Linked DNA regions of Homo sapiens: all the other regions are linked to region 4. Evidence: fine-mapped expression QTL. A gene starts in region 4. Each other region holds a variant in brackets. All regions are shown on one strand. Distances are between the middles of the regions. Region 1 overlaps LOC105371114 (a long non-coding RNA gene). Region 2 overlaps TMC5 (transmembrane channel like 5). Region 3 overlaps TMC5 (transmembrane channel like 5). Region 4 holds the start of TMC5 (transmembrane channel like 5).

Region 1 (5,436 bases), 36 kb after region 4:
AGAACAAAGACATCCTCCTAAATGGTCGTCTTCTATTCCTTCAAACAGGAGATTTAAGAGACTGTTGTTTCCTGAAGAACTATCCAATTTCTATTCCTGTAAAATTGTTCCTCTTCTGGGAGTGGGAAGTCTCCTTCAGGAACCTGGTTCATTCTTCTGCTCCTGGAAGAAAAAAACTGAGGTCTCCCTGGCTCAGGTGCAGATCCAAGTCAGGGCCAGGTGCCAGGTGCCAGGTGCCAGGTGCAGCCAGCAGGAAGTGCTGGGTCTTCTCTCTAAGGTCACTGCACAGTCACCACTCGCCTCCATCACATTCCATCTTCCATACGTGGAACAACTGGGTTCCACCCATCCCTTTCCAGATCTGCAGGCTGGGACTGGGGGTGGGGAGGTGGCCTCCAGTAAGGAAGGGAAGAGGGAGGAATTGTCTCACAATAGAAATAGCCATCATTTCCTGACACTTCCTCTGTGCCACAGACTTAAAGATCATTTTTTAAAATTTGAGCATGTATTAGTAATATGTCTATTTAGTAAAAAAAAGGGGTAATCAGTAAAATTTTCCCTGCCCTTGTCCTGAGATGTATGATGCATTTACAAACATATACACATATATTCTTGGTTTTTTAACCCCAAAGGTGGCTTACCTGGCATCTTGTTTTGTTTTGTTTTGTTTTGTTTTGTTTTTGAGACAGTGTCTCACTCTGTCACCCATGCTGGAGTGCAGTGTCATGAGCATGGCTCACTGTAACCTTGAAATCCTGGGCTTAGCAATCCTCCTTCCTTAGACTCCTGAGTAGCCAGGACTGCAAGCATGTGCCACCATCCCTGGCTAATTTTTACTTTTTTATTGTTTGTAGAGATGGGTGTCTTGCTATGTTGCCCAGGCTGGTCTTAAACTCCTGGACTCAGACGAACCTCCTGCCTCAGCCTCCAAAAATTCTGGGGTTATAGGCATGAGCCACTATGTCTAGCTTCCACCTTGCTTTTTCACTTCATAATATACCTTCTATAGGCTGGGCGCAGTGGCTCACACCTGTAATCCCAGCACTTTGGGAGGCCGAGGCCAACGAATCACGAGGTCAGGAGATCGAGACCATGCTGGCTAACATGGTGAAACCCCGTCTCTACCAAAAATACAAAAAATTAGCCGGTGTGGTGGCGGGCGCCTGTAGTCCCAGCTACTCGGGAGGCTGAGGCAGGAGAATGGCGTGAACTCCGTAGGTGGAGCTTGCAGAGAGCCGAGATTGCGCCACTGCACTCCAGCCTGTGCGACAGAGACTCCATCTCAGAATATTAATAATAATAATAATAAACCTTCTATAAATATAATTTTCTATATATCTACATATAGAGGTAATTGCTGCACAGATGTGTCAAAATTTATTTAATCCATCTCCTATCGATGGAAATATAGGCTGCCTCTAGGCAATTGTTCTTGCCACAGCCCTGAGACCTAAGCTCTAGTCTTATATCCTCATTTTATGGATGAGAAAACAGGCTCAGAAAGGTTGTGGCATGTGGTCCAGCTCACACAGGAAATAATCGGAAACCAGGTTCTCATCCAGTGACCTTACCCTTAACCACAATGAAAATAGCTTTTATTTTGAGCCAGGAAATTACTTACCCACACACATAATTTTCTGTTTTAGAACAGTTTTAGATCTACAGAAAACCTTTGAGGATAAGATAGAGACTGCGGCCCGCAGTCCACCACGGTAGGGCCATGGGGAGTGCTCATAGGGAAGGTGTTCCTGGCATCCGAGGGTGCACGGAGGGAGCCGGGTGCTATAAGCTGTGCCCGGTCACTGCCGCCTCCCACCCTCAGCGCCGGGTGCTCCCAGCTCTGGGGGATAGCAGGTGGTAAGGGTATCTTCCTTATTCCTGCTCCCTCCTCCAAAGTGTCCTCATCCAACCCAGACGGAGCCAGCCGACATCTCAGCTAGCCTCTCAGCCAGACTCTCAGCCAGCCAGCCTCTCACTCAGCCAGGAAGACTGCCCGCTAGCCTCTCGACCAGCTTCTCAGCCAGCCCACCAGCATCTCAGCGGGCCAGCCAGCCTGCTGGCAAGCCTCCAAGACAGCCACTCGGCCAGCCTCCCAGCCTACCCCTCACCCAGCCTCCCAGTCAGCCACTTAGCCGGCCAGCCATTTAAGACTGAGCCCAATCTCTCTCCCATTGCAAAATTTCATTACTATGTTCCCTATACCTATCATGATGGTCCTGAAAAATCTGCCTTACCGTATTTTAACATGTGCCATTGAATAATTTTTTCTTCTACAGAGGTAGATGCTATTATTAGAATCACTTTATAGAGGAGGATAAAGAAGTACAGAGAGTACTGTCTCAGATTCCCTGTCTCAGGTGCCCGGGCTCATGTACAGTCTCAGGTGCACTGCCTCTCTCTTTAGCCAGCTGGTTCCCCAGCCAACGGTGCACCCTAAATCCCCAGGGAATGACAAAGTTGAGAGATTGGGTGAGGCTCAAATGCCATGGATGTTTTTAGTTATGAAGAGCTCAAGTCATCTCTAAACCTCCCAAAAGCCAGGGGTAGTCATTTCACAGAGCAACCAGTATGGTCCTTGAGGTCCCTCAGGCATGAACCTGGCTGTTGACTCTGGGTCTATTATAGAAATTCCAGATGAGAACTCCACTTTCAAGGGCAAGCACCAAGCCCTCACTGCCACTGGTAAGCCCTCTGTTCTTATCAGCAA[G/A]CTGTGAGATTATGCAGTTTTTGTGTTTGTTCTCCTTGTGGTAGATGATTTCAAATTACATGAGAATAATTTATGACCAATTTGGGTTGCATTATTCAATCAGGATTGCAGGGGTGGCAGAATCACCAGGTCAGCTCAGGCTTTGGGTATTTCTTTTTTCCTTTTCTTTCTTTTCTTTTTTTTTTTTAAGACATGGTCTTGCTCAGTCTCCCAGGCTGGAGTGCAGTGGCATGCTCATGGCCCACTGCAGCCTCCACCTCCTGGGCTCAAGCAATCCTGCTACCTCAGCCTCCCTAGTACCTGGGACTACAGGTGTGCACCACCATGACTGGCTAATGTTTGTTTTTAGTAGAGACAGGGTTTCACCATGTTCCCAGGCTGGTTTTGAACTCCTGGGCTCAAGCGATACACCTGCCTCGGCCTCCCAAAGTGCAGGTGTGAGCCACCATGCCAGGTGGGTATTTTCATTAAAAAAGGCAAAAGCCCTTGCTGATGGGAGCTGCATCAACTAAAACATGAATTCACCATAATTGGTGATTTTTGCCCCCTGAATCCTAGTCATAGTCCAAGTGAAATAGCAAGACACAAACAGGGGCATTGGCCAACAGCCTAGTTCTGAAGGAGATGGAGCAGATGTGGACACGTGGAGTCAGGCTTCCAGAAGTCATCAGGTGGATGTGTGAAGTCAGGCTTCCAAGGCAGCTCACGCGCATGGCTGTTGGCTGGGGGCCTCAGTTTCTCACCACACTGATATTCCCACAGGGTTGCTTCAGCGTCCTCACAACAGGATGGCTGACTTCCCCAAGAGAGCAGCTCAAGAGAGAGCAAGGAGAAAGACACAACATCTTTAATGATCTATGCTTGGAAGCTATATGTTGCCACTTTTGCAATATCCTACAGATCGCTTAGCTCCATCCAACATGGAAAGGGATCAGACACGGGCATCATTGCCAGATGATAATCCCTGATGGTCATCTTGGATGCTGGCCACCACAGTTACATTTGAGGTGAGTGTGGCAGGAGCAGAGCACATCTGGGGCAGATGTGGCAGGAATGAAGGATGGAAAAGGAGCTAAGGTTGTGAGTGTCTATTTAAGCCAAAGATGAGAGTTCTAGCTGGGAATAAACAGACATTACTAATATAAGAGTGTGACATTATCATGTTGGCATTTTATTTTTATTTTATTTTATTTTTGAGACAGGGTCTTGCTCTGTCATCCAGGCTGGAGTGCAGTGGCACAATCATAACTCACCGTAGCCTCAAACTCCTGGGCTCAAGTGATCCTCCATCTCAGCCTCCTGAGTAGCTGGGACTACAGGTGTGCACAACCATGCCCAGCAAAAAAAAAAAATTTTTAATCAGAGTCTTGCTCTGTTGCCCAGGCTGGAATGCAGTGGTGCAATCATCACTCACTGCAGTTTTGACCTCCCCAGGCTCATGTGATCCTCCCACCGCAGCCTCCCAAGCAGCTGAGACTACAGGTGTGTGCCACCATGACCAGCTAAGCTAATTTTTGTATATATATATATATACATATTTTGGTAGAGATGTGGTTTCACCATGCTACCCAGGCTGGTCTGGAACTCCTGGCCCTAATGCCTGCCTTGGCCTCCCAAAATGCTGGGATTACAAGCATGAGTCGCTGTGCCCAGCCTCATGTGCTCATTCTGAGGGAGATATTACAGGATTTGGTGATTGAATGAAGGAGGAGGAGGGAAAGGAAAATATTTCTGATGACAGTGAGGATTTTAACATGTTATGGTTTCAGAAGACACCATCACCCAGGGAGGCTTGAATATATCACCTGACTCAGTTACTGATATGCATCTCTCCTTCCTTAGCAAATGTGAAAACCTCAATTTTTTTTCTTGTTACCCTGCTCTTTCAGGCTGCTCTCCACCCCCAAATGTACTGCCAGCTGCTGTTTATTTAGGAAACGAAAGCTAATTTTAGTGTTAGCTTTAGCCAACCCTAATCTCGAAGCAAATCAGCTGCAAGTACAAGGGGCTTCAGAGTCAAACAGAAATACCTTTGGACTTACCTGCTGGACAAAGTTATCTCAATACTCCCCAGCACCGCTCTACTATGGATCTAAAAATAATGATTTTCCCTGCTGAATTTTGAAAATATCATGTTCACTGTATTTGCTTTATCCTCCACCTGGGATGCTCTTCCTTCAGTTCTCTGCTCAAATGTCATCGTATCAGTGACAGATGCTGAACTCCTTATGTAAACTAGCACCCCACTCCACCTTCTTGGGTGGAAAATCAACCACTTTGATTTTCTTCATAGCACCAATTGCCGTCTGACAAATGACATATTTACTTGGCAAGCAGTTTATTGTATCTCCTCACCCCTTTCATAGATTACAAGCCCCATGAGGGCAATGACCTGTGTATTTTGGTCACTGCTGTATCCCCAGAGGCCCCTGAAACAGTGGAATACCTCAATTTCTATTTGCATAATGTCATCCAGGGCTGGCCAAGGTGGAAGGCCTGGGATATGAAACCTTTAAACAAACTGCTGGTGGCAATGTTGCTTGAAATCAACTTTCTGAAAAGTAATTTGACTTGATACTCTCTTTAAAAAAAAATTAAGGTCAGGTGCAGTGGCTCATGCCTGTAATCCTAGCACTTTGGGAGGCCAAGGCAGGAGGATTACTTGAGCCCAGGAGTTCAAGACCAGCCTGGGCAACATAGTGGTACCCTGTCTCTACAATTTTTTTTTT
Region 2 (5,436 bases), 73 kb before region 4:
TTGAGACCAGCCTGACCAACATGGAGAAACCCCATCTCTACTAAAAATACAAAATTAGCCGGGTGTGGTGGCAGGCGCCTGTAATTCCAGCTATGCGGGAAGCTGAGGCAGAAGAATTGCTTGAACCCGGGAGGCGGAGGTTGCAGTGAGCCAAGATTGCTCCACTGCACTCCAACCTGGGCAACAAGAGTGAAACTCTGTCTCAAAATAAATAAATAAATGAAATAAAAGTATTTATCTTATAGAGAGATATATATATATATATATCTAAGTTTTAATAAATAAAAAATAATATAAAGCCTAAGATTTGCTTTAAAATAATCCAGGGAGCCAGATGGAGTGGCACCTGCCTGTAATCTCAGCTACTCCGGAGGCTGAGGCAGGAGCCCAGGAATTTGAATCCAGCCAGGGCAACATAGCAAGACCCCCACCTCTAAAAAAATAAAATAAGGCTGGGTGTGATGGCTGTAATCCCAGCACTTTGGGAGGCAGGTGGATCACCTGAGGTCAGCAGTTCGAGACCAGCCTGGCCAACATGGTGAAACCCTGTCTCCACTAAAAATTCAAAAATTAGCTGGGCATGGTGGCAGGCACCTGTAATTCCAGCTACTTGGGAGGTTGGGGCAGGAGAATCGCTTGAACCCTGGAGGCAGAAGTTGCCGTGAGCCGAGATTGCACCACTGCACTCCAGCCTGGGCAACAAGAGCAAAACTCTATCTCAAAATAATAATAATAATCATCATAATTAAAATAAATAAATACTAAGAATAAAAATAAGGGATTTGCTGGGAAGAGAAAGTGTAGATGAAATAAGAATATAAAAACATTGATGGTTGTTAGGGCTGAGAGCAGGGATATGAGAGTTCATTGTAGTATTCTCTTTATTTTGGAGGATGTTTATACAGCGTTTAAAAAGGGTGAGGGCGGACATCAGAGGGATCCAAGGGGACTTACATTAATGATCTGCTCATGGAGCAGCCTTATCATAATCTTCCTTCCCTCTGTGATCTGCCAGTAAAGATAGGTGATGATTCTGGAAGAGGAGAAAAGAAAGAATGACACTCTTGCAAATGTTTTGCAGGCTCTGAATTTCCACTGGATGCAAAGGAACTGGAATCTGTGCTTGCAGATGGATTTGGCCCAAACATGTTTCTGAAAAGTCATGTCAGGGAGAGTTATAGGTTAAATACATTGGAACAATGGTTCCTGAAGGGGGAAATAAGCCCATGCCACAGCTCCTCTTCAGACCAATTAATTGAGCATCTCTGGGCATGTCATCTCCTTAAGAGGAGAAAAGCAGGTATTGCTTTCTTAATAGAATAAGTTAAAAAAAAAGTCCCTAAGATGACCCAGCACGGTGGCTCATGCCTGGAATCCCAGCACTTTGGGAGGCCAAGGCGGGCGGATCACTTGAGGTCAGGAGATCGAGATCATCCTGGCTAACACAGTGAAACCCTGTCTCTATTAAAAATGCAAAAAATTAGCTGGGCGTGGTGGTGGGTGCCTGTAGTCCCAACTACTCGGGAGGCTGAGGCAGGAGAATGGCATGAACCCAGGAGGCGGAACTTGCAGTGTGCTGAGATCGCGCCAGTGCACTCCAGCCTGGGTGACAGTGCGAGACTCTGTCTCAAAAAAAAAAAAAAAAAAAATCCCTAAGACAAGAAGATAGTATATATAACCTTTCCCCCCTTCCCCCAGTGATGGGGTCTTGCTCTGTTGCCCAGGCTGGAGTGCAGTGGCACGATCAGAGAACACTGCAGCCTCAAACTCCTAGGCTCAAGCAATCCTCCCATCTCAGCTTCCCAAGAAGCTCAGACTACAGGCACAAGCCACTGCACCAGGCTAAGTAACTTCAAAAAAACTATCAATGCAAGCTTGGGCAAGGTGGCTAACACCTGTAATCCCAACACTTTGAGAAGCTGAGGCAGGAGGATAATTTGAGGCCAGGAGTTTGAGACCAGCCTGGGCAACACAGGGAGACCCCATTTCTCCAAAAAATTTAAAAATTAGCCAAGTGTAGTGGTGCACACCTGCAAGCCCAGCTACTTGGGGGCTGAGGTGGGAGGATGGCTTGAGCCTGAAAGGTTGAGGTTGCAGCAAGCCATGACCATGCCGCTACAGTCTAGCCTGAGTGAGAGATCATGACCCTGTCTCAACCAAAAAAGAAAGAGAGAAGTAAGGAAGGAAGGAAGGAAGGAGAAGGGGAAGGGAAGGGAAGGGAGGGGAAGGGGAAAGGAAGGGAAGGGAGGGGAAGGGAGAAAGAAGGGGAAGGGAAGGGAGGGGAAGGGAGAAAGAAGGAAGGAAGGAAGGAAGAAAAAATGAAGAGGAAAGGAACGGAACTGAAAGGAAAGGGAAGGGAGAAAGGGAGAAAGAGAGGGAGGGAGGGGAAGGGAAGAGAAGAGAAAAGAAAAAAAGGAAGGGAAGGAAGGAAGGAAGGAAGGAAGGAAGGAAGGAAGGAAGGAAGGAAGGAAAGAAAACTACCTATGCAAGGGTAGAGTCACCCAGAACACTGAGCTATGCTATAGCCATTTGCTTTCCAACCAAACATCCCTACTGCTGTTTCCCTCGAGAGCTCCTGGCTTTCCCTGCTAGATTCCCCGGGTACCACACTCACAGCACAATGAGGGTGAGGATGAAAAAGAAGTGCACACTTCCAATGAGGTTCCGATAGATCCAAACAACCCACAGGTAGCCAGGCCGTGTACTTAGGGTGTCGATCCAGCTGTAGATGGAGTGAATGAAGAGAGGCAGACCTCGAAAAGGGCCACAGTCAGCTGAAGGCTTCAATCTGGTAAAACAAAGATGGAAGAACATCTCTAGCACAAGACTCAGGGATGGTTATTCTAGAATCAGGGTGTCCCTTCTGGGCTCTGGGCCTGAAAACATCAAGTCTTGCCTGATCCAATCACACCCACTTCCCAAAGAAACCCTCTTGCTCTCAGCCTTGCTGGGGTGACCTGTACTCTAAGGACC[T/G]GCTCTCAGATCAGAGCTGACCCAACAGCAGCCAATCCAAAGGCCAAGCAGTGACTTCTGCAGTAACTTGGCTCAATGATATGAATGGGGGCAGTCAGACTTTTTTTCTTAAGAAGTTGAATTAAGGCCAGGCACTATGGCTCATGCCTCTAATCCCAACAGTTTGGGAGGTCAAGGTGGGAGGATTGCTTGAGCCCAGAAGTTCAAGACCAGCCTGGGCAACATAGTGAGACTCCATCTCTACAAAAAAATAATTAGCTGGGCATGGCAGCACATGCCTGTGGTCCTGGCTACATAGGAGGCTGAGGTGGGAGGATCACTTGAGCCCAGGAGGTTGAGGCTATAGTGAGCTGTGATCACACCACTGTACTTCAGCCTGGGCAACAGAGCAAGACCCTGTCTGAAAAAAAAAAAGAAATGAAATTAAAGACAAGTATGGTGGCTCGCCTGCAATTCCAGCACTTTGAGAGGCCAAGGCAGAAGGATCTCTTGAGGCCAAGAGTTCGAGACCAGCCTAGGCAACATAGCAAGACACCCATTTCTAAAAAAAAAAAAAAAAAAAAAATTAGCCAGGCATGCCAGGCGCGGTGGCTCATGCCTGTAATCCCAGCACTTTGGGAGGCCGAGGCGGGTGGATCACAAGGTCAGGAGATCAAGACCATCCTGGCTAACACGGTGAAACCCTGTCTCTACTAAAAATACAAAAAATTAGCTGGGCGTGGTGGCGGGCGCCTGTAGTCCCAGCTACTCAGGAGGCTGAGGCAGGAGAAGGGCGTGAACCTGGGAGGCGGAGCTTGCAGTGAGCCGAGATTGCGCCACTGCACTCCAGCCTGGATGACAGAGTGAGACTCTGTCTCAAAAAAATAAAAAATAAAAAAATAATTAGCCAGGCATGGTGATGTGTGCCTATAGTCCCAGCTACTCGGGAGGCTGAGGTGGGACAATCACGTGAGCCCAGGAGTTTGAGCTGTGATTGCGCCCCTGCATTCCTGCCTGGGTGGCAGAGCAAGGCCCTGTCTCAAAGAAAGAAATTGAATTAAGAAGCATAAAGAGGGAAGCCTGTTAGCTATGGAGGAATGAGCAGAAACTATAGGGCAACAAGGAACTGGTGAGGAAGAGAGAGAAGAGAGTGGATATGCCAAGAGGAGCAAGGGCGTTGTGGAGCAAGGAAGAGAGAGAAGAGAGTGGATATGCCAAGAGGAGCAAGGGTGTTGTGGAGCAAGGAACTGAGAGCCCCAGTTTCACATGTGTCCTAAAAATCATCTCCCTTGTTCATTAATTCATTCAATTGTTCATTCAACCATGGCTTATTCTGTTAAGCACTGTTCTAGTCAGGCTCTGGGGACTTCATATTAAGCAAGTTCCTGCCCTATTGGGATTACATTCTGGTGGGAAAAACGGACAATCGTTGAGTAACAATTAAAGACTCACACAGAGGCATTCCTGATTATGAATGATAGAATGAAGGAAAGAAACTCAGGTCTGAGAGAGAGAAGCAGTGGGGAACTGAGAGCAGACAAGGAGGGCTGTGAAGATCAGATCTTGGAGAGGGCCTTGGAGCTGAGAATCAGAGGGTGGAGAGGAGGCAGCCAAGCAAAGGGAGTGGGAAAAGGACTTCACTCAGAGGACTCTGCCCTTGTTGGGAGGGGCTTGCTGGCTTCCAGGAATGGGGTGAGGGTGGTGGGGCGGGGAACAGTGGAGCCAAAGGGAAGTGGGGTTGGAGAGGTGGGAGGAGCCAGATGAGTCCTGCCTTTCTGTTAATTTAGATGAAGTTCTGTTCTGGATGTGGAGGAACGGGGTGGGGGGGCATCTCCCCATTCTGGGAAGCTTCAGTTCTTGGCAGAAGTGAGAAAGCTACTCCTGACCGTGGGCATCGGATGGGTGGTGATCAAACTAGGATGCATTCCCTCCCTGGCTTTTAGTGTCTGTTGGTTAGCCAGGGAACTTGAGTTAGGCACTGTATTAAGCATGTCTTTTTATTCTGATGTTTTGACATCTGGGGTCTTACTGACTCCAGCTCCCAGGGCTAGCTGCCCTTCCCTGGGCTAGCTTACAAAGCACACCTTTCAAATGCAAACCAACCAATCCAGATCCCACACCCGCAACCGCCCCCTTTATCAGGCTCTCACACTCTGGGCCACCACTCCCCTGCCCTAATCACCCCAGGGCCAGGTGCCAGACAACTCAGGGCGGATCCATATCCCACAGCCTACTGACAAACCAGCCAACCCTAAACCTGCTTCCCCTGCCTTGCCCATTCCTTACCATAGAAAACCACAATAAAGCCTCTAGCCCGTTTCCCCTCACTCCCTCTGCCTCCTGAACAACCCTGATGCTTCCCTGTGTGGTCCCTTGTGGCATAGAGTGCCCCCTCTTCTCAGGAACTGTGAGTAATAAACTATCTTTTTAGTGATGGTCATTCCTGACCTGTTGGGCTTCACCATACCTACATTATTTATTTAT
Region 3 (5,436 bases), 22 kb before region 4:
TGGTAAAATTTGTCAAGGAACAAAAATTGACAGAAGATCAAAATCTTTTAGACAAAATTTAGATCTACAGAATCTAAACCTGGAAAAACTGGACTTGCTACTTAAAAATGGCCTTAGGCCAGGTGCAGTGGCTCACGCCTGTAATCCCAGCACTTTGGGAGGCTGAGGCAGGTGGATCACCTCAGATTGGGAGTTTGAGACCAGCCTGACCAACGTGGAGAAACCCTGTCTCTACTAAAGATACAAAATTAGCTGGGCGTGGTGGCGCATGCCTGTAATCCCAGCTACTCAGGAGACTGAGGTAGGAGAATCGCTTGAACCCGGGAGGCAGAGGCTGTGGTGAGCTGTGATCGTGCCATTGCACTCCAGCCTGGGCAACAAGAGCGAAACTCCATCTCAAAAAATGAATGAATGAATGAATAAATAAATAAAAAACAACAACAACAAAAAACCGGCCTTAAAGGAATACTGAAAATGGTGAAAACTATAATTGATAAAATTAGATTAAAATAGTGCAGATAATCAGTGAATCAAATCTGCAGTAAAGTTTTGGTGAAAAGTCATCAATTCTGATAATCTCAGTAAAATAGAAATAAAAGTGTAAAAATCAGAAGTGGTGCAAACATGGCCGGGCATGGTGGCTCATGCCTATAATCCCAGCAGCTGGGAGCCTTCTTCAAGACTAGCCTGGGCAACATGGCAAAACACCATCTCTATACAAAAATAAAAACTTAGCCGGGCATAATAGGTGCACACCTGTAGTCCCAGCTACTTGGGAGGCTGGGGTGGGAGGATCAATTGAGCCCAGAAGGTTGAGGCTGTGGTGAGCTATGATTGTGCCACTGCACTCCAACCTGGGTGACATAGCAAGACCCTGTCTCAAGAAAAATAAAAAAAATAAGAAAAAAAAATGACCAAAAAAAAAAACAAAGAAGTGGTGCAAACATCTCATATAAAAAACTAATCGACTTCACGGAGTTAGATCTCCAAAAGATTTTCTGGATAACAATTCATCACTGTTGATGTAATTTTAATTAAAGTGTTTGGATTTATGAGCGTCAAGTCTTAACCTTGTTGGCTACGTAGCAGGGTCAAAACAGTGTGGATCTAGATGTCTTACAGGGATTGAATTAGGAAGAGGTGGGATAATGGGAAGGTGATCCAAGGAAGAGATGGTGAAAGATTAAGTTCAAGTAAGGGCTTGAAGCCTCAAACTGAGAGTCCATGGCCCAGGTAAGGTCTACAGATAGGTATGCGCATTTCACCACAACTTCAGGTCATAGAAACCGTCATATATATCCCTAATCTAAACCACACCAACCAAATTCCATTGACTTAATGATTCAGCACTCAGCATCCACTCCCAGTGAAGGGATATATATCTGAACTTACCCCCTGGTCATCTTTGGGGTCTCAGAAGAGCCATAATCATGACCATTCTCAGCATCTGAATAATCAGGTTCTCTCCAAGTGCTTGGCAAGTTCTGATTGTCCTCAGCACTGGGATAGTCTGGCTCCCCAAAAAAGGGTGGAGAGTTAGGTTGAATGTCAGCGCCTGGATAATCAGGCTTTCCCAGAGAGTCTGCGTATGGATTGATTCTAAAACTTGTATGTTCCAGATTCTTTCTGGATCCTGGATGGTTCAAATTGGCTCTGGGTCCAGGATGATCAGAGTTGCTCTGAGCTCCAGGGTAGTCCGGTTCTAAGGAGCCAAAATGATCTGGATGTGTTCTGGAGCCTGCATAGTTTCCACTGCTGCTGGAGCCTGCAAAATCAGGATTTCGTTGAGATCCAGGGTAGTCTGGTTGTCTGGATGATGCTCGGTGGTAGGGATGACTCTGAAATTCACTATAATCTGGCTCTGGTAGAGAGGTAGGATGGTCTGGGCTTGTTCTAGAGGCTGCAGAGTATGCATTGCTTCTGGTGCCAGAATAGTCTGGATTACTCAGAGATCTAGGATAATTTGGTTCTGCCAGAGACCCAGGATAGTCTGGACGTGTTCTGGAGGCTACAGAGTATGGATTGCTCCTGGTGCCGGGGTAGTCTGGATTGTTCAGAGGACCTGGAACATCTGGATAACCTTGAGTTTTCAAATACCCCTGCGTACGGTTCTGAGACCCTGAATAGTCAGGGTAATCTGGGTCTTCCTCAGACCAGTTATTCCTGTAGTAGGCAGACATGTTGGTATGGACTCTTCACCCTGGAGTGGTAAACTGTCCCAGCATTTGCAATTACTCAGGGATCTTTTTTTTTTTTCACCTGAAAAACAAGAAGAAAAGAAAAAGTCAGATTTTTTTCCCTTTCTTCCCTGCAGAGATTGCTGGTTATCTTCCAGTATCTGTTCTCCTTT[C/T]GTTCGTAGTCAGGTACACAACTGCCTAGAATAAAGACTATGTTTCTAGATTCTCTTGCACCAAGGTATGAACATGAGGATGGTCAATGGGATGAGAGCAGCAGTGATACCCACAACTTCCCAGCTGTGCTGTTAGAGGAAAGAGGTTATTTCTCCCTTTCTCCATCTTGCTTCCTCTGGGCTGGAATGCGGAAATGACGGTGCACCATCTTGGGTCATGCACACAAAGCCAAGACCTGCATTTGGGATAAATGCACAACAGAGGAAAGGATGCTGGGTTGCTGGTGACTTCACAGAGCACAGCCATTGTATCAGCTAAGACTATTATGTGAGAGAGAAATAAAATTATCTTGTTTAAACCACTGTTTTTGTGGTCTTTAACACATGCAACTAAGCTTTCATCTTGAACAATATATTCCCTTGGTTATGGGGGAGGGGACCAGTGAACCAAAGGATTGAAAGAAACAAGGACTTTTTGTGCTTTTTGATTACACTTGAGGTTCTAGGGTTCAAAGCATAAATTAATATAAGTGCATAAAAGAAGAATGGTTAATGGAAACTAGAGGACTAGGGTAAGTAGACAATTGCTATGACCCCTTCCAGTTTGAAAATAAGATTTTATGAGCTCCACCAGCTCTGATCCACAGACCACAGGATACTTTTGTCAAATTTAGCCCAAAGCTACCTCCTAACATATTTTAAGTTTGGCCTAAAGATTTCTCTGTACATAATGAACTGTGACCTAACTAAGAGGTGTCAACAGACTATAACCTACTCTTGTACCAATCACTGAATTTTGGCCAATCACAGGCAACCAATTGTTCAAACTGTGTTCAAATAAGGCAAATGCTGAGCTGTAACCAATCCATTGCTCCTGAACCTCACTTCCATTTTTTCTATGTCATCTCCCTTTTCTTGTCCATAAATCTTCTTTGACCCAGCATGTGGCAGCACCTAAGTCCCTCAGAACCTATTCTGGCTGGGGAGGCTGTCCCATTAGCAAATCATTCTTTGTTTGATTAAACCCTGTTACCTCTAGTTTGTCTAAAGTTTTTCTTTTAACACTTTGAAATAAGAGGTGATGCAGTTTTAATTTTCTTTTCTTTTCGTTTTTCTTTTTTTGAGATGGAGTCTCACTCTGTAGCCTAAGCTGGAGTGCAGTGGTGCAATCTCGGCCCACTGCAACCTCCGCCTCCTAGGTTCAAGCAATTCTCCTGCCTCAGCCTCCTGAGTAGCTGGGATTACAGGCGTGCACCATCATGTCCAGCTAATTTTTGTATTTTTAGTAGAGACAGGGTTTCACTATGTTGGCCAGGCTGGTCTCAAACTCCTGACCTCAGGTGATCCACCCGTCTCGGCCTCCCAAAATGCTTGGATTATAGGCATGAGTCACCATGCTTGGTTGAGTTTTCTTTCTTTCTTTCTTTCTTTCTCTTTCTTTCTTTTTCTTTTCTTTCTTCTTTTTTTTTTTTTTTTTTGACAGGGTGTCACTCTGTCACCCAGGCTGTAGTACAATGGTACAATCATAGCTCACTGCAGCCTCGATCTCTTGGGACTCAAGCGATCCTCCCATCTCAGCCTCCTGAGTAGCTAGGACCACAAGCATGCATCTTGTGGTCCTAATTTTTTCATTTTCTGTAGAGATGGGGTCTCCCTATGTTGTTGCCCAGGCTGATCTTGAACTCCTGAGCTCAAGTGATCCTCCTGCCTCAGCCTCCCAAAGTGCTGGGATTACAGGCGTAAGCCACTGCACCTGGCCTCCAGTTTTCATTTCTAAGTGTGTTGGATACCTGTTGTTTTTACTTGCCTACTCTCCCTCGCTCTTGGTCCAGGTGATTCAGGAAGGGCTGACTGTACTCCTGACTGGCTGGTCAGGATGGTCACATGACTCAGGTGTCCACCATCCCCCTGGCCACAGAGTTTGGCTCAAGAATGGGCATGTAAACCCAGTCAGTCCTCCAGGACCAGGACAAGGCTTACTGGGAAAGAGGTGCTCTTATTTCACTGGGGTGGCTAAGGGGATAGAATATATACATAAGCCTGGAGCTTCCAATGTCATGTCAGAGGGAATAGAGAAAAAGAGTAATTAGTAGGGCAGAAAATTTAAAGAAAGAATCAATAGGATTTGTTGGCTGATCCAGTAGGGAAAGGATGAGAAGGAAAATAAAAGTCAAGCATATCTCTACAGTTTCAAGCCAGCATGATGAGATGAACGGCAATATTTTTGAAATAAGGAAGTAGAACATTTTTAAAGCTCAGCCAACTTTTACAAGTTTATCTCTATGTAAATGACAAGGGTTAGACTTGAGTAATCAGAGCTACGATAATATTAACTTTCTGCCAACACCTACAGTCTCAGAATGTCCGTGTGCCAACCCACATCCAAATTTCTCAGCATAGTTGACATCTGTGTTTCATTATTGTGTCCCTGCACAGCATCCATTTCTCGCTTTTGTGGTTAACACTTTTCCCTGGGTAACACCTCTCCCACACAGTCAGTCCCTGTGGGCCAGGTGTGGAATATGACCCATCAGAATTATTTTCTTCCTGGAGACAGTGATTCTGTCAGAGCATACAACCCAGTTAAAGCCAGTGAGATTCAATTCTGGGAGTTTTATCAGAACTGTAGGGAAGAGAGAAGCTCTGCCTTCTGCCGGCCTTGGAGCTAGGAAATTTTACTTTATTTTATTTTTTGAGACAGGGTCTCACTCTGCCGTCCAGGCTAGAGTGCAGTGGCATGATCACAGCTCGATGCAACCTCGACCTCCCAAGCGTAGGTGAGCCTCCTCCCTCAGCATTCTGAGTAGCTGGGACTACAGGTGTGCACCACTATGCCTGGTTAATTTTTGTATTTTTATAGAGACAGGGTTTCTCTATGTTGCCCAGGCTGGTTTCAAACTCCTGAGCTCAAGCAATCTGATCTCGGCCTCCCAAAGTGCTAGGATTACAGGTGTTAGCCACTGCAACCGGCCAAAGTTAGGAAATTTTAAACCTGAAGCTGCCAGTGGTCACCAGTAGAGAAGGGCCTAAGAGTGATGCTAACAGGGAGGAGAACAGAACCAAGAGATAAACAGAAAGAGGAGCCA
Region 4 (5,436 bases):
TCTACAAAAAATTTTAAAAATTAGCTGAGCACAGTGGCATGCAGCCGTTAGTCCCAGCTACCCAGGAGGCTGAGCCTGGATGATGACTTGAAACAAGGGAGTTGAGGCTGCAGTGCACTATGATCATGCCACTGCACTCCAGCCTGGGGGACAGAGTGAAACTCTGTCTCTACAGAAAATTTTAAAATTAGTTGATTTTTAATTTTTTTTATTTTTTTTTTTGAGACGGAGTCTTGCTCTGTTGCCAGGCTGGAGTGCAGTGGCATGATCTCAGCTCACTGCAACCTCCGCCACGTGGGTTCCAGTGATTCCCTTGCTTCAGCCTCTCCAGTAGCTGAGACTACAGGTGTGTGCCACCATGCCTGGCTAATTTTTTTTTGTGTTTTAGTAGAGACAGGGTTTCACCATGTTGGCCAGGATGGTCTTGATCTCCTAATCTCGTGATCTGCCCTCCTTGGCCTCCCAAAGTGCTGGGATTACAGACGTGACCCACCACACCTGGCCTAAAATTAGTTGATTTTTAATCATTAATGGTGGTGCACGCCTGTAGTCCCAGCTACTTAGGAGGCTAAGGCAGGAGGATCACTCAAGCCCAGAAGTTCAAGGCTGCAATGAGCTATGATCACACCACTACACTCCCTATAAATATTCCTTTCCCTATGAATGCCTTCGCAGAAATGACCATAACTGATGATTAGCATTCTAGCTGCTGTGATTTATCTCTGGGAATGATGAACGTTGGGTGACTAGAAATAACCTGAGCAATAATAGCGTCACCTCCTGCCACGTCATCCCGAAAAATCTTGGCAAATATGATTCATTGCGTTATTCATTAAGTGTTTATGAAGATACTCTATAGCTTGAACTTGACCCTGTCTTCTGGGGACAGGACCTTTTCTGGCAAAGTATGACAATAAACCCTACTTTTAACATTAGTGGCCCGGCGCGGTGGCTCACGCCTGTAATCCCAGCACTTTGGGAGGCCGAGGCGGATGGATCACGAGGTCAGGAGATTCAGACCATCCTGGCTAACACGGTGAAACCCCGTCTCTCCTAAAAATACAAAAAATTAGCCGGGCATGGTGGCAGGCGCCCGTAGTCCCAGCTACTCCGGAGGCTGAGGCAGGAGAATGGCGTGAACCTGGGAGGCGGAGCTTGCAATGCGCCGAGATCGCACCACTGCACTCCAGCCTGAGCGACAGAGCAAGACACTGTCTCAAAAAAAAAAAAAAAAAAAAAAAAAAAACCAACACATTCATTTCCACTGAGCTTCTTTTCCCCTCTCTAGTGTAGAAAGAATCTAGTCAAACAATAACAATAATAATAAGTTAATAATAATAACAACAACAGTAATAAGCATGAAGACAGCACTATTTATTGAGTGCTGACATGCATGCCAGGCACAGGGCTATGCCCTTCACATGTATCAGCAACTGAATGCTCAAACAACTTTATGGGGAGGTATTATTATCCCCATTTTATGATTACATTGAGACCCAGAGAGGTTAAGTAACTCACTCAAGGTCACACAGCTAAACAGAGGCAGAATGGGATTCAAACCCATACCTCTCTGATTGCATACGCTGGGCTTGGATCATCATCATCAACAACATCATTGTTGGCAGTGCATGGTGGCTCATGCCTGTAATGCCAGCACTTTGGCAGGCTGAGGCAGAAGGATCGCTTGAGCTTAGGAGTTTGAGACCATCCTAGGCAATATAGTCAGACCTTGTCTCTACTAAAAATCATAAAAGGTAGGCGGGCATGGTGGCATGTGCCTATAGTCTCAGCTACTCAGAAGGCTGAAGCAGGAGGATTGCTTGAGCCCAGGAGATCAAGGCTGCAGTGAGCTATGATTTCACCACTGTACTCCAGCCTGGGCAACAGAGTGAGATATTGTCTCGAAAAAAAAAAAAAAAAACACAAAAATCACTTATCAGAGGAAGAAGAGAAGGATGAGAAAAATGAGAAGGATGAGAAGAATGAGAAAAATGAGAAGTTATTGTTTCTTGAACACCATAAAGAAGTAAATAGATTTTTTTTTAAATCTCAGAAAATGAAATACCATTGGGAGAGACCACCTGAATTCACTCATCCAACAAAGCATTCTTCTAGAACATGATGCTCCAGGAGACACCCCCAGACATAGAGGTCACATTTATTGCGTGTTTGTCGTGCACCGTATTTTATTAGCTCTGATATCCACCTGTGGAAGTGGGAGCTTTTGGCATACTACCCATTCTACAGACAAGGAAACCAAGGCCAGAAACATACAATAACTGACCCAGAATCCCACAGTTAGACCTGGGGAAGCCCAGATTCCAACTCAAGCAGATAACCCTAGGGCTTGTTCTCATAATCAACACTCTCTTGCCTCCCATTTCCCCTGGTCATTCTTTCCTCTAACAAACATCTGTTGTGCCTCAATTCTGTACCCTCGTCTGGCAATAAGCAATACGACAGCCTCAGTTTCCGTCCTCCTTCGCTGACACGTTCCCAAGCATTCCGCATTATTCCCATGACCTCCCACCCCTCCTTCAAAGCACTTTCACTTACCTGCCCTCAGTTCTACAGGAAAATCCAGACAAACTTCCCCTCCACTTTGTAGTTCAAAGCTAGAGGGACAGGCAACAGGTCCTCTTTTTTTCTTAACTAACCGGTAAGGCCCATCTTTTTCTGCCTCTCTGCCGTGTCGCCTTAAAGACTGCTCCTTGCTATCTTGGTCACACGTCTGGGCGGGAAGCCACGAAGATCACGGGAAGGGGGTTGTTTACTGAGCTCATTGCCGTTTTATGCCGCCCTGGCTATCATCTCTTTCCTCATCAACCAATGAGTAACCAGGTCTCACCTGGTGAAAATGCAAATCAGTCTTCCACCTCTACCATCACAGCTGCACCTATGGCCTCTGTCTACTGAGTCCGCGACGATGAAGGCCTAACTCAGGTCCCAAGTTGTGCATTTCCTTCTTCCTAAGCCCTAACTCCTCCCTCTCATTAATATTCTTTTGTTATCAGCTCAATGAAAATATCAAAGTCCTTTCTAGAGGTTATTTTATTTCTTGGACACCATAAGGAAGTAAATAGATTCGTTTTGTGTTTTTTTTTTAACCCTAGAGTGTGAGGTGGTGTGGGAAGAGACTACCTGAATTCATTAATCCAACAAAGAATGGAACGTGATGCTCCACTAGACACCCCCGGGCACTGGCTCCTTTTTTTTTTTTTTTTTTTTTTGAGACAGCGTTGCCCTCTGTCACCTCGGCTGGAGTGCAGTGCCACAATCTCAGCTCACTGCAACCTCCGCCTCCTGGACTCAAGGGATCCTCCTGCCTCAGCCTCCCAAGCAGCTGGGACCACAGGTGCAAGCCATCATGCCTGACTAATTTTTGTATTTTTTGAAGAGCTGGGGTTCTGTCGTGTTGCCCAGGCTGGTCTTGAACTCCTGAGCTCAAGTGATCCACCCATCTCGGTCTCCAAAACTGCTGAGATTACAGGCGTAAGCCACTGCACCTGGCCTGGACACGTTTTTCTTTTCTTCTTTTTTTTTTTTTTTTTTTTGAAGACTGAGTCTTGCTCTGTCGCCCAGGCTGGAGTGCAATGGCGCCATCTGGGCTCACTGCAACCTCCGCCTCCCAGGTTCAAGTGATTCTCCTGCCTCAGCCTCCCGAGTAGCTGGGATTACAGGTGTCTGCCACTACACCTGGCTAATTTTTGTATTTTTAGTAGAGATGGGGTTTCACCATGTTGGCCAGGCTGGTCTTGAACTCCTGACCTCAGGTAATCCACCTGTCTCGGCCTGCCAAAATGCTGGGATTACAGGCATGAGCCACTGCATCTGGCCGCCTGGCCACATTTTTCTATAGATACATCCCCTTTGGCAACATGCGGACCATACAGGTTTAACTCTGTAGTTATGATCACCAATGGCATGTCCCTTCTGGAAACAAAGGACAGGCAGTATAAAACCAGCCCACATTTCAAGACAGTTGACTCGAATTCAAATGCTGACTCTGGCACTCTAAGACTGTAATGTCTCAACTCCTCTGAGCCTCAATTTCCTCCCCATTAACCTACAAAGTGGGAACTATATACACTCCCTCCTCCTAGTGTTGATAAGGGCTACATCAGTTAACATTTGAGAAAGTTTGGACTAAGATTATTTCTAGCCACCTAAGACTCACATTCCCAGGGATAAACCCCAGCAGATGGGATGCTAATCCATCACAAAGGGTTTTCTCTGAGAAGGAGATTTTATATTCATACAGAAATAAAGAAGGAGGTAGACAATTGAGGGCTGGATCAAATTTCTGTATTTTTACAAATACCAGAACAAACAAAATCTGTTTCCTATGGCATTTGCATTTGGGGGAGTATCATTTAAAAGAAAAAAAGAATGTCCTAGTTCTATAATTCACAGAAAGTATTGGGGTCTATAGTTACCGTTCCTCTTTTTTTTTTTTTTCCTTTGAGACAGGCTCTTGCTTTGTCAACCAAGGCTGGAATGCAGTGGTGCAATCATAGCTCACTGCAGCCTCTGACTGTTGGGCTCAAGCAATCCTCCTGCCTCACTCAGCCTCCCAAGGAGGTGAGACTACAGGTATGTACCACCACATTTGGCTAACATTTTAAATTTTTATAGATATGGGGTCTCTCTACGTTGCCCAGGCTTGTCTCAAACTACTGGGCTCAAGTGATCATCCCACCTTGGCTTCCCAAGGTGTTGGGATTACAGGCATGAGCCACTGCACCCAGCCCCAATCTTTGATGTATTAGCACTAAATGCAAAACAGTGGCTTTCCAATGGAGAAATGGAATTTTCTCCTGTGGAAGAGACCTGAGTTATAAATTGTATGATCAGAGGAAATGAGAGGAGGAGGGTGGTGGTTTCCAAGAAGACAGTTTGGTTTGCCCCAAGAGCTGTCATTACTGGGGTGAAAGGGCAGTACCTGGCAGCATTTGACTCTAGGAACACCTGGATCGTGCGGTTCTGCCTGCCAATCATTGTGGAGCTGCGCCAAACGAGCTCCTGGCAAGAAGTCAAAGCAGTGATTTTGATTCTTTTGTAGCTATAAGTCAGGATTTCTCAACCTTGGCAGTACTGTCATTTGGGGCCAGACAACTGCCTGTTGTGGGGAGCTGGGGGGACTGCTCTGTGCATTGTAGGGTGTTTAGCAGTATGTCCGGCTTCTATCTATTAGATACCAGGAGGACACCCCAACCCCACCCCATCTGCAAGCTACGACAACCAAAAATGTCTTCAGGAATGGGCAAATATCCCCTGGGAGGCAAAACTGCCTCCCCCTGAGAACCACTGCTCTAAATGTTACCTAGTTCCATGGACAGTGTCTCCTCGCTCTCCATTGCGTGGGACAAGGAAATCAGCAACTCAACATTTTCTCTAATAGAGTTTTCTCCCCTCTGTTTCTCCTCTTCTAGAAAC

What was found. PIP is the estimated chance that this variant, and not a neighbour inherited with it, causes the effect.
Region 1: its variant is fine-mapped to the expression of TMC5 in thyroid (GTEx, PIP above 0.99).
Region 2: its variant is fine-mapped to the expression of TMC5 in whole blood (INTERVAL, PIP above 0.99).
Region 3: its variant is fine-mapped to the expression of TMC5 in whole blood (INTERVAL, PIP 0.96).

Annotation. Positions count from the first base shown.
Region 1 is chr16:19,379,708-19,385,143 of GRCh38, reverse strand. The region is part of intron 1 of LOC105371114 (a long non-coding RNA gene); the gene reads left to right. Among named protein-coding and RNA genes, the nearest start is that of TMC5, 35 kb to the left of the region's middle. The variant G/A (reference allele first, on the strand shown) is at 2,708.
Region 2 is chr16:19,487,747-19,493,182 of GRCh38, reverse strand. TMC5 (transmembrane channel like 5) reads right to left here. Exons shown (of 22, transcript NM_001261841.2): 18 at 2,615-2,788; 19 at 955-1,033. It overlaps TMC5-AS1 (TMC5 antisense RNA 1), which reads left to right and starts at 5,282. Exons shown (of 3, transcript XR_007065016.1): 1 at 5,282-5,359. RefSeq lists an enhancer at 4,487-5,175. The variant T/G (reference allele first, on the strand shown) is at 2,974.
Region 3 is chr16:19,436,783-19,442,218 of GRCh38, reverse strand. TMC5 (transmembrane channel like 5) reads right to left here. Exons shown (of 22, transcript NM_001261841.2): 3 at 1,393-2,259. The coding sequence starts at 2,180. Among named protein-coding and RNA genes, the nearest start is that of TMC5, 22 kb to the right of the region's middle. The variant C/T (reference allele first, on the strand shown) is at 2,351.
Region 4 is chr16:19,415,213-19,420,648 of GRCh38, reverse strand. TMC5 (transmembrane channel like 5) reads right to left here and starts at 2,766. Exons shown (of 22, transcript NM_001261841.2): 1 at 2,557-2,766.